2 separate regions of the Homo sapiens genome follow, and region 1 is linked to region 2. The links come from fine-mapping of genetic effects on gene expression. A gene starts in region 2. The other region holds a variant in brackets. All regions are shown on one strand. Distances are between the middles of the regions. Region 1 overlaps CBL (Cbl proto-oncogene). Region 2 holds the start of DRC12 (dynein regulatory complex subunit 12 homolog).

What was found. PIP is the estimated chance that this variant, and not a neighbour inherited with it, causes the effect.
Region 1: its variant is fine-mapped to the expression of DRC12 in esophagus mucosa (GTEx, PIP above 0.99).

What each region holds. Positions count from the first base shown.
Region 1 is chr11:119,301,617-119,306,975 of GRCh38, reverse strand. It overlaps CBL (Cbl proto-oncogene), which reads right to left. Exons shown (of 16, transcript NM_005188.4): 16 at 1-5,359. Among named protein-coding and RNA genes, the nearest start is that of MIR6756, 8.7 kb to the left of the region's middle. RefSeq lists an enhancer at 1-488. The variant G/T (reference allele first, on the strand shown) is at 2,611.
Region 2 is chr11:119,193,364-119,198,734 of GRCh38, reverse strand. It overlaps DRC12 (dynein regulatory complex subunit 12 homolog), which reads left to right and starts at 2,894. Exons shown (of 7, transcript NM_001145018.3): 1 at 2,894-2,936; 2 at 3,236-3,311; 3 at 3,741-3,812; 4 at 4,850-4,969. The coding sequence starts at 3,248.

The DNA of each region.
Region 1 (5,359 bases), 110 kb before region 2:
GAAAGGCACAAAACATTTGGCTTTTTTTTTTTTTCAGTGTGCTAAAAATTGTTTTGTTTTGAGTAAAGGAAAAAGATATATAAGGTTAAAAATCCCAAGTCACCACAGCCAGAAAACAGACGTAGGAGGTGCCTCATAGCTGCCATGCCCCTACCACATGTGTCAGCAGGAAGTCAGGCTTTTCTTTCAAGGCCAAGACACTAGAACAGTGCTGAGCAGGGTAGGTCAGGAGGCATTTACTCTCATGGGCATTGCGTTGCAGGCTCACTCACCCAGACAGCAGGAGAAACAGGCCATGGAAGACAACACGTGGTCTACAGACTCATAAGTAGTTCTCTGCCTCTCCAGTTTTAAGATGGCCATAAGCATGGCCACCCTCACCCACAAGAAGGTCAGAGGTAGGTAGAGAGGAGGGAGCTGACACACAGGCACCCAGGACACCCTGCTTCAGGGCTCAGCATGGAGGTGGCACAAGGCCTGAGGAGTTGCACATAGCACGCATTGAGCAATACTCCTCTCTGGCCTCCTGTCTGATTTAGGGGCAGAAGGAGAATGTAGGAGAGGCAATGTTGGTGGGGAGGGGGCGGGGCCTGACATTCATTTTTGGGACTGAATCAGGCAATCAGGACTCTGCTGATTTCTTCAGCTGCCAAATCAGGAGATCTGAGGTTGGCTTTTGGGCTTTGCTCTGTACAAACACAGGGAGTGGTCGGCTGCATTTTTCTCAAGCTCTGTACCCAGGAAGGGGCGGCAAGAGCACCACACAGCTTAGTCTGTCTGTCAACAGCCGGCCCTTCCACCCGTGCTCCCCACCTGACTCGCCATGGACATGCGGGGCTTGCTCTCCCCATCCCTATTTCCCCATCTCCTACTCTTTTGCTACTTTCCAGAACCAAGAAATACTGGTATTTCCCACTGGAACCAACCCAGATTTCCTGGGACACAGTGAAGGCACATGGCACTGCTGTCCCTCTGCTGCTTAACTCAGGAGCCTAGTCTACAACATCAAAGGCAAAGTCTGATGACCCACCCTTCCTCCCTTGATGGACATCTTTGGATTATTAGGTAACTTCTGTGTGTATCAAATGACTCTAGTAGTTTAAAAAACTTTTAAGTAAGGCAGTATGAAATACCTTACAACTCAGGACAGGCTCTGAGATGAGAGAAATATAAGATCAAAAGATTTAGGCAAGCAAAAGCATAGTTTTAAAAAAAAACAGAAAAGGAAAGCTTTTATATAGGACTAAAATGAAAGCAATTGCCAGAGAAGACACAGGTATACTGTCTAAAGAGCTCTCGGTAAAAACTCTATCCTAAACTGGAATCTATATTTAATTTCTATCCTGGCAACTGCTCCAATATTATATATTCTTACTGGCTCTGGCAAAGTAGTTTCTGAGGTGCCTAGGAAGGCTTGCCTGAGAACATTACTGCAGAGCGGCCCTCACACAGGAAGGAGCGAGAGGGTGAGGAGGAGAGTGGAGGAGACAGGCCACAAGCCCAGAGAATGAACATTTTCAAGCACTCAAACCTGAAGAGGACCCAGAAGTCCATGGATAGTGGCTACAGTGGAACCCGTTATTAGATTCTGCTCTCTAAATAAACACGGAAGAAGGCAAAAGACCTGAGGCTGAATGGAGGCTAAGGAAGGCTACCCAGGAACAGGCTAGCTCTGGAACAGGACAGGCTGGCCCACAAGAGGGAGGGAAGAAATCTTGGATGCGAAGACTGACAAAGGGAAGAAAAACAGGAAATAAAGAAGACAATGACCAGAATTAAGTTAAACCTAAGAATTTCTATGATGTCCCAGACAAACTCCTGTGCCTTCCTGTCCACTAAGCAAAAAGGCAGGAGTAGTGGCTTTACTTCTTGAGTAGAAGCCTTTTTAGGGTGTCTGTGGAGTCTCTGCTCACTTCTCTGAGAAGCTCCCTGTCTCCAGCTGAAGGAGCCTGCCACATCTCTGCTCTCCCTGGCAAGGCCAACTGCTCAGAGATAGATACTTGATCAATGTGCTGGGCTGAGTGTAGTTTTTTTTAAGAATACGAAGTATGGGCCGGGCGCGGTGGCTCACGCCTGTAATCTTAGCACTTTGGGAGGCCGAGGTGGGTGGATCATGAGGGTCAGGAGTTCAAGACCAGCCTAGCCAAGACGGTGAAACCCTGTCTCTACTAAAAATATGAACATTAGCTGGGCATGGTGGCAGGCGCCTGTAATCCCAGCTACTCGGGAGGTTGAGGCAGAGAACTGCTTGAACCTGGGAGGCAGAGGTTGTGGTGAGTTGAGACTGCACCACTGCACTCCAGCCTGGGCGACACAGCGAGACTCCATCTCAAAAAAAAAAAAAATTAAGTATGGGAAATTGAGAATTTGTTCATGGTGATCCCCAGAGTTGGAAGGTGGTGTAGACTTGAGGACTAGAGTGCCTATTTGGGGGCCACATATACCATAAGCAGACTGTGAAGCGGGAGAAAGGACTAGGTGCAAAGCTCTGCAGTTCCAGCTCCACCCAAGAACCAAAGGCACTTCCCGTCCTGGGTTCTGCGAAATACCCTGCATCCTTACCACAACTCCACTCCCTCCTTTATTCCGCTTGAACATTTCTGTTTCTTG[G/T]ATCCAAAGAATCCCTAAGCAGTCAAAAATATAACCTTGACCGTCCTTCACTATCCACCACCCTCTAGGCATTAAGCCGTTCTATGTATTTCCAACAAAACACTGCTCATGGAGACTGAGTTCAAAGGAGTGATAGTAATAGTTTATGCTGAGTTACAGTATTTTAGATTGAGCTTCTAAAGCTCTAAGGTCTGGTAGAATGATGTGTGGACACTAAGCTTTAGAATCCCTAAACTCCTTGCTCTGGGAGGGAGGTAAAGGCTGACAATTAGGGGACTGATGGAGTTCAATCTGTATTAATGTCTGGCTCTTGGAAGACCCAACAACTGACTAAAGGATCTTTGGGTCCTGAGACCCGAAGACAGGGCCCACACCTCCAGCCCTTCTAAAACATAGTTAGCCACAACGGTTGTTGAAAGACTGGAAAACCAATTCCAAATAGTACAGGACATGGTGACAGGTCCCATAAGGGTGATACGAAAATCCTCCCAACAAGGGGGATTAGGGACGTAGCAGCTCAGGAAAAAGTTCAAGGAAGGCACTAGATTGGAAAGGGGAGTGTGGGCAGATGCTTTGCTTAAACATTTAATGCCCTACTGTGCAACTCTGAGCCAACTTACCTTTCAACTCACCAAACAGATTCTAATTATGTTGGAACAAATTCCAACATAAAAACAGTCGGTATCCATGACACTTACACCAAGGAATCTCCCAGGCATTATCAAAGCTACAGGAGACAACAGGGGATAATGGGAGAATCTTGGCCTGTTATTAACCAGGATAGCTCTATGAGGAAAGGTAAGTCTACATGGAAGAGCTGTGAATAAAAATTGCACAATCTTACTGGGAAGAGCTATTTTAAGGTCAAACGCAGAGGCTATGACAGTCCAAGTACAATCCCCCAAACATTAGTAAACTACTATGTGGCGCCAAGGGAAGGACACATACCTGACATTTCTGGCACATGGTCATCACTCATAAACATTTGCTGGATGAACAAACAAACTGTTAGAGCCAGACCAATAGTCAGAAAACTATTTTTCAATGAACAGTGGTCATTCCAGAGTCAGAAAGGCCAACGGCAAGAAGAGGGACTTATAGTTTGAGAAGGTCTATAATCTTCTGACTTTAATGACGTGAGGTAGGAGAATATTCTGCTTTATCACCATTGCTGAACACCTACAAAAAGAACTAGATCTTAAAGGGAATATATAGATGGTCCCTAGTTTTTACAAGGAAATTTTGTTATAAAAATTTGTGAGTTGACTGTTTGGGACCATAAACACATTTTACTTTTCTATAGAGAAAACACATATTTTAAGAGTGATGAACAGTGACCCCCACCTCCCTTAACCAGAAATCTTTTAAATCTACAAAATAGTTAAATAATACTAACAGTAGTATCCCACATCTTGGGCCCCAGTAATGAGGGTCTGTATAAGAAGAGAAAGAGAGGAGAAGAATGGTAGATTATGCAGAATGGGGCTGGGGGGAGACGAGCAAGTGGAAGAGAACGGCCACCCACAGGTAGAGAGCACTATTCACAAAAATATTAACAGGTAAATGCTGAGATGAGAAGCTGCCTGGTCTATTACTTAACTAAAGGGAGGTATATGAAGAGCCCACAGGTTTTTCCATTTTAAGAACCCTCTACTTTAGTGGAAGGAACATGGCGACAGCTGGAAAGGTCCAGTTGCTGCTCTGCAGCAACCCCGCAACAAGGCAGCTTGGAAAGCAATCCGTGAAGACCCAGGGAAAGCATGAGACTGGCTGAATACAACAGCCCAATGAATATGAGAAAAAGAGAACAAAGTAGTGTGGGTTTTTTTACTTTATTAGCCACTAGGAAGGGACAAGCGGAAGGGCTTGCCCAAAATGGCAAAACTCGAAGTCTGTTCATAAAAGGCAGTTTTAATTAAATTCAGAGCAAAGCCAAAGACTTTTAAATTGCCATACAAATGGAGGGTGAAGAATGGGTTACTGGTGCCTTAGTCAACAGAAAATATAAGAAATTAAGGTTTTGAGAATAACCTCAAAACAAAAGCCACATGAAAACTTTCCTTAATCTTGCCTGGCAATCTCAGGCACAGACCCAGGTGTGTCCTCACAGCACCCAGTCAAAGGAAAGATCCTCATGAAATGATCCAAAACCTTGAATGCTGGCAGATACCTGTGACAAACTGACACCCAAGCCCATGGATGGCACACACACACAACACAGGGAGCTGGAGCCTCAGTTTCACGCTGATTCAAAGAGCCACACAGGACTCAAAAAAGGAAAAGTCGAGACTGCCCTTAACCTACACAGTAGGGAGATAATCTCCAGAGAAGATTTAGATGCATGGAAAAGGCAAAAGATATATAGCCAATGCTTTGTCTTCCAAAGAGATCTTTAGACTACAGGCAATATCTGCAGATAAAGAAAAATTACAATATGGATGGGCCTGGAAACTGCTTTTTTTTTTCTAGTTCTTTGTCTAGGCCTTCAATATTTAAACAAAATGCAAAACTGAACGTTACCTCAAAATGAAACAGTGTGTGTACTGGCTGTTAGAAGTTGATGGCGGTCTACTGTTTGATATTCACTGCCATCTTCCTCTGCCCCACTCTACCTCAACTCGGGACCGCCTCACCTAATGGTGGGCTTTGCCGCTTTATGCCATGTAGAGAAGACACTGGGTAACCACAGCAAATCAACACGAGATCCTGTACTGCCTACTCTGGGAATATAAATGGCTCTGAGGCCAGG
Region 2 (5,371 bases):
GGCTTAGAATTTTATTTTTGGTTTATAGTCACTAAAGTTGGTATACAGGCGCCCACTACTAAATTCCACTGGCTTCAAAAATAAATAAATAAAAGATTAGAAGAAAAATATCCTCCAGATTTGGGAGATGTCCACAAGATTAGTTGACTCTGAGTTACAGGAGCTGGAAGCACTTGGGAAGTCAAGACTGGCTCTTCTCTTTGCTCTGTAAAATGCCCGGAAGTTCATGTAAGTGCCGTGCAGCCACCAAGGTGACAAGCATGAACCAGCCTCTGCCTAAAGTTACCCACTACCCAGAAGAAGGACTTTTCAATTCCAGATCTTGTGGCTTTTTTTTTTTTTTTTGAGATGGAGTCTTGCTCTGCTGCCCAGGCTGAAGTGCAGTGGCGCAATCTCTGTTTACTGCAACCTCCTCCTCCTGGGTTCAAGCGATTCTGCTGCCTCAGCCTCCCCAGTAGCTGGGATTATAGGCACGTGCCACCATGCCCAGCTAATTTTTGTATTTTTTAGTAGAGACAGGGTTTAATAATGTTGGCCAGGCTGGTCTCGAACTCCTGACCTCATGATCTGCCTGCCTCAGCCTCCCAAAGTGCTGGGATTACAGACGTGAGTCACCGCGCCCAGCCTCTTGTGGCTATTTCTACAGATCTGCTCCTGACAATAGGCAATGGACCAAAAATATTGAGGGTGACAGAGATGAAGAGAAGTACCTAAAGAAGGCCGGGCACAGTGGCTCGCGCCTGTAATCCCAGCACTTTGGGAGGCTAAGGCGGGTGGATCACGAGGTCAGGAGTTCAAGACCAGCCTGGCCAAGATGGTGAACCCCCATCTCTACTAAAAATACAAAAATTAGCCAGGCGTGGTGGTGGGCACCTGTATTCCCAGCTACTTGGGAGGCTGAGGCAGAGAATTGCTTGAACCTGGGAGGTGGAGGTTGCAGTGAGCCGAGATCACGTCACTGTACTCCAGCCTGGGCAACAAGAGCGAGACTCTGTCTGAAGAAAAAAAAAAAAAAAGATAGGCTGGTGCAGTGGCTCACGCCTGTAATCCAAGAACCTTGGGAGGCCAAGGCAGGTGGATCGCTTGAGGCCAGGAGTTTGAGACCATGCTGGACAACATGGTAAAACCCCATCTCTACAAAAAATACAAAAATTGGCCAGGTGTGGTGGCATGCGCCTGTAGTCCCAGCTACTCAGGAAGTTGAGGTGGGAAGATCACCAGAGCCCAGGGAGACTGAGGCTGTAGTGAGCCGTGATCATGCCACCGCACTCCAGCCTAGGTGACAGAGAGAGACACGGGAAAAAAAAAAAGAAACCTAAAGAAAAGAAAGGGTCTGCAGGTCCCCTAATCCAAAAGGAGAAAAGTCCTGAAGTTTTTGCTATTTTCACTCTAACCAGTATGGTGCCCAGAGATCCAAGTGGCAGATAAATGGCAAGCCTCCAGGATAGCACAGAGCTGGAGGGAAAGTGAGGGCTGCCTGACAAGGGAGGGCCACCCATCATACTCTCTCCCCAATGTTAATTCTTCCAGCCACTCCTGGCTCAAACAGGACGCTAAGAAGTATCCCCAAAGGGAGTCACCCCCACTGTTGCCCAGTAAATAATTTAAAAGCAAAAATGTAGGAAACTCAGGAGAAGGTCAAACAAGTCCACTAGAGGGAGCCCCAACCAACTCTATGCTACAGGGAGCCTCACAAAGCAATGTCTCAACACCTGTCTGAAAATCAACCACACAAGGGAATGGGGAAATGTAGCAATAGATTAAGTCACTAGGAGAGAAGATAGCCATGTAAACACGCAGCTAAAACACAGGCTTTTCAAGAGCTGCAAAATCAAACAATTAAAGATCAGGAAACTGATGCTGAGCAAAGTCAAATGGCTCGCCTCAGTTTACATATCCACAGTTGGGACTCAAACTCACATGTCTTGTCTCTAACCTGAGCTCTTTCCTCCACACTTGCATCCCTCTAGGTCAGTACCCTAGAGTCCATGGGTCCACTATTCCTCTGCGTCTCATTTCTCTGAAGTGGGAAACTCCCTGGACTACCTATTCCTGCACTTATTACCCTCATTCTACAGTGTACTGAAGAGGATCTTCGGTGGTCTGGGAGTTTTGTTTGTTTGAGACAGGGTCTCCCTCTGTCATCCAGGCTGGAGTGCAGTGGTGCAATCATAGCTCACTGCTGCCTCAACCTCCCAGGCTCAAGTGATTCTCCTGCTTCAGCCTCCCAAGTAGCTGAGACTACAGGTGTGCACCACCACACCAGGCTAATTTTTTAATTTTTTTGTAGAAATGAGGTCTCACTGTGTTGTCCAGGCTGGTCTCGAACTCCTGGCCTCAAGTAATCCTCCTGCCTCAGCTTCTCAAAATGCTGGGATTATAGGCACGAGCCACCGCCCCAGCTTAGATCTTCAGTTTTAAGCCTACTAATGTCATTTTGCTGGTGGGACCTCGGGATGTCAGTTGTCCAACATGGCTACTGTCAGTCCTTTTCCTCTGTATCAGCACCACATATTATCTCAGATGTGTACATCTGAATTTGGAAGTCTCCAAATTGCAGGCCATGTCTACATGGCAATGAATCATAACTAATCGACCTCCAAAGCCCTTTCTTTTCAAACTATACTTAGGATTTTGGGATAAGGAAAGAACTGACCCTTTGAGACCTTGATATTTTAAACTTTGTGAGCTGATTTAGCCCATTCCACCTTCCTGTGAACTCCATGTTTCCCAGTTGCCTGGACAACATACAGCCTCTGGAAACCCAACCTTCCAGCCCTCAGTCCTGCCCTCAAGAGAAATTTGCCACCAAGGATTGGCTCCCAGGACCCAGGCCCCGCCTCAGGCTCCTCGCTAGTTGGGCCTTCTCTCTGCCACTCCCCACGAGTGGGTCACTCCACGGGGAGCCCCAACGCTGGCAGGAGAGGATCCTACAGGTAGGAAGTGAGGGTTGAGGATGATGGGAAGAGGGAGGGGAGCAGGTACAGGGATTTCGTTTCTCTAAAAGAGAGTTGCAAGGAATGACTTCTGTACAGAGTCAGCCTGGTTGAGAGAAAAAACTCCATCCTCCCCACTGACCCCAACCCTGTCTGAGGTTCCAAAGAGACTGTGAACTGACTTTTCTGAAGGATATGAGAGACAAATTTGGACTCAGGAGAGTCTCCTGGTTCAGTCTAAAGCTCAGGAAAGCATCCCTGTGTCCAGACCTAAACATAAGGTCCCCTCCTTCTCCCAGGACAGCAAGGAGATGCCACCTAAAAACAAAGAAAAAGGGAAGAAATCTGGGGCACAGAAGAAGAAAAAGAACTGGGGTGAGTCATGGTGGGTGGAGGTGCCCCCTGCTTCTCCATGTTCTGCCATGAAGACCACGCAGAGCTCCTCCAGAGAGAATTCAGCCTTCTGCAGGACAGGATGGAGCTCTCTTGACCTACCTCTTTCATGTCCTCACAGCCAGATCCAGGGAGCTGAGGAAGTGGGGAAATGGTCACCCACGCTCTCCTTTAAGCCCCATCTAGCTCTGTGCCTTCCTAATATATTTGTCATGTGTATTTTGCATATCTGTTATGTGCTGGTCGGTGAGGACACGGTGCTGACTTCAGTAGACTCTGCCACTGTGGATACCTCATTTAGTGGTCCTCAGGTCTGCTGTGGCAAAAGTGCAGGGTGTGGGGTGAGGATGTGAGCAGAGTGAGGAATGCTGAGATCATGAAGAGCTGAGGCTCTGCCACTTGCCACCGCAGGTGCAGATGTGGTGGCCGAGTCCAGGCACAGGCTGGTGGTGCTGGAGAAGGAGCTGCTCCGAGACCACTTGGGTAAGGAGGGTAGAAGCTGGCATGGGTGGGCAACAGGGGAAGTGAAATGGGGCATTTCTGTATCCTGGGGGATTGGAGAGTTGGAGGTATGGTGGGGGGTTAAGTTGACCCTAACCATCCCCTAGTGGAAAAAGATGATGAGAGAGGGTGGGCAGTGAGAGTTGATAAAGGAAGGTGTTTTTTTTGTTTGTTTGTTTTTTGTTTTTTTTGGTTTTTTTGACAGAATTTTGCTCTATTGCCCGGGCTGGAGTGCAGTGGTATGGTCATAGTCCACTGTAATCTCTAACTCCTGGGCCGCAACAATCTTCCCGCCTCAGCCTCCCGAGTAGCTGGTATTACAGGTGCACACCACCATGCCTGGCTACTTTATTTATTTATTTTTTTTTTTTTTTTTTTTTTTTTTTTTTGAGACAGAGTCTTGTGCTCTGTCGCCCAGGCTGGAGTGCAGTGGTGTGATCTCGGCTCACTGCAACCTCTGCCTCCCAGGTTCAAGCGATTCTCCTGCCTCAGCCTCCCGAGTAGCTGGGATTACAGGCACGTGGCCACCACACCTGGCTAATTTTTGTATTCTTAGTAGAGACGGGTTTTCACCATGTTGGCCAGGCTGGTCTCGAACTCTTGACCTTGTGTCCCACCAGCCTTGGCCTCCCGAAGTGCTGGGATTACAGGCGTGAGCCACCGCGCCTGGCCCTATTTATTTTATAGAGACAAGGTCTCACTCTGTTGCCCAGGCAGGTCTCAAACTCCTGGCCTCAAGCAATTCTCCCACCTAAGCCTCCCAAAATATTGGGATTACAGGCATGAGCCACCATGCCAGGCTATCCGAAAAGAACATAGAGGGAGTTTTTACTTCTTAATAATGAGGAGCCTGTGAGACTCTAGGGATAAAAAACAAAAACAACAAAACCCAGAGAGAGAGTAAGAGGCTGGACACCCCACCACCAGATTTCTAGAGGTGGGCAAAGTCCATCACGTTCATGGGGGCTGATTTAGTGGGACCCAGCCAGTCCTGACGGCGGCTCTGGGACTGCTCACAGCTCTACGGAGGGATGAAGCCCGTCGAGCCAAGGCTTCCGAAGACCAGCTGAGGCAGAGGCTGCAAGGGGTGGAGGCTGAGCTGGAAGGGGCCCGAAGTGAAGGGAAGGCCATATATGCAGGTGTGTGGTCGGTTAAGCAGGTGGGCAGGAGACAGGGGCTTGGAGGAGGACAACCAACAGGGTCAGTTGATGCAAGGAAGGGAAACAAGGAGGGCTTCCGACTGCCAGGCCTGGTCTTGGTCTTTCCCAAACAGTACAAATCAGGAAGGATCCTGCAGGAACCAAAGGCAGGTAGGTTCCTGGGATCCCAGGCAGGGGCCTTCCAGGATGCCTGGTGCCATGTGCTTGATGCTGTGTAGGATACACATGCAGTCATAGCCATCATCTCAATCAGCCCATGGGCGGGGAGAAGGGCTAGCATCCCCATCCAAAGCTGGACTGGGGGAGGTAGGTCGGGCTTCCTGTCCCTTCCTCAGGTTTTCATGGTCTGCAGCTTCTCAGAATCACAAAAAGAACCAAGAA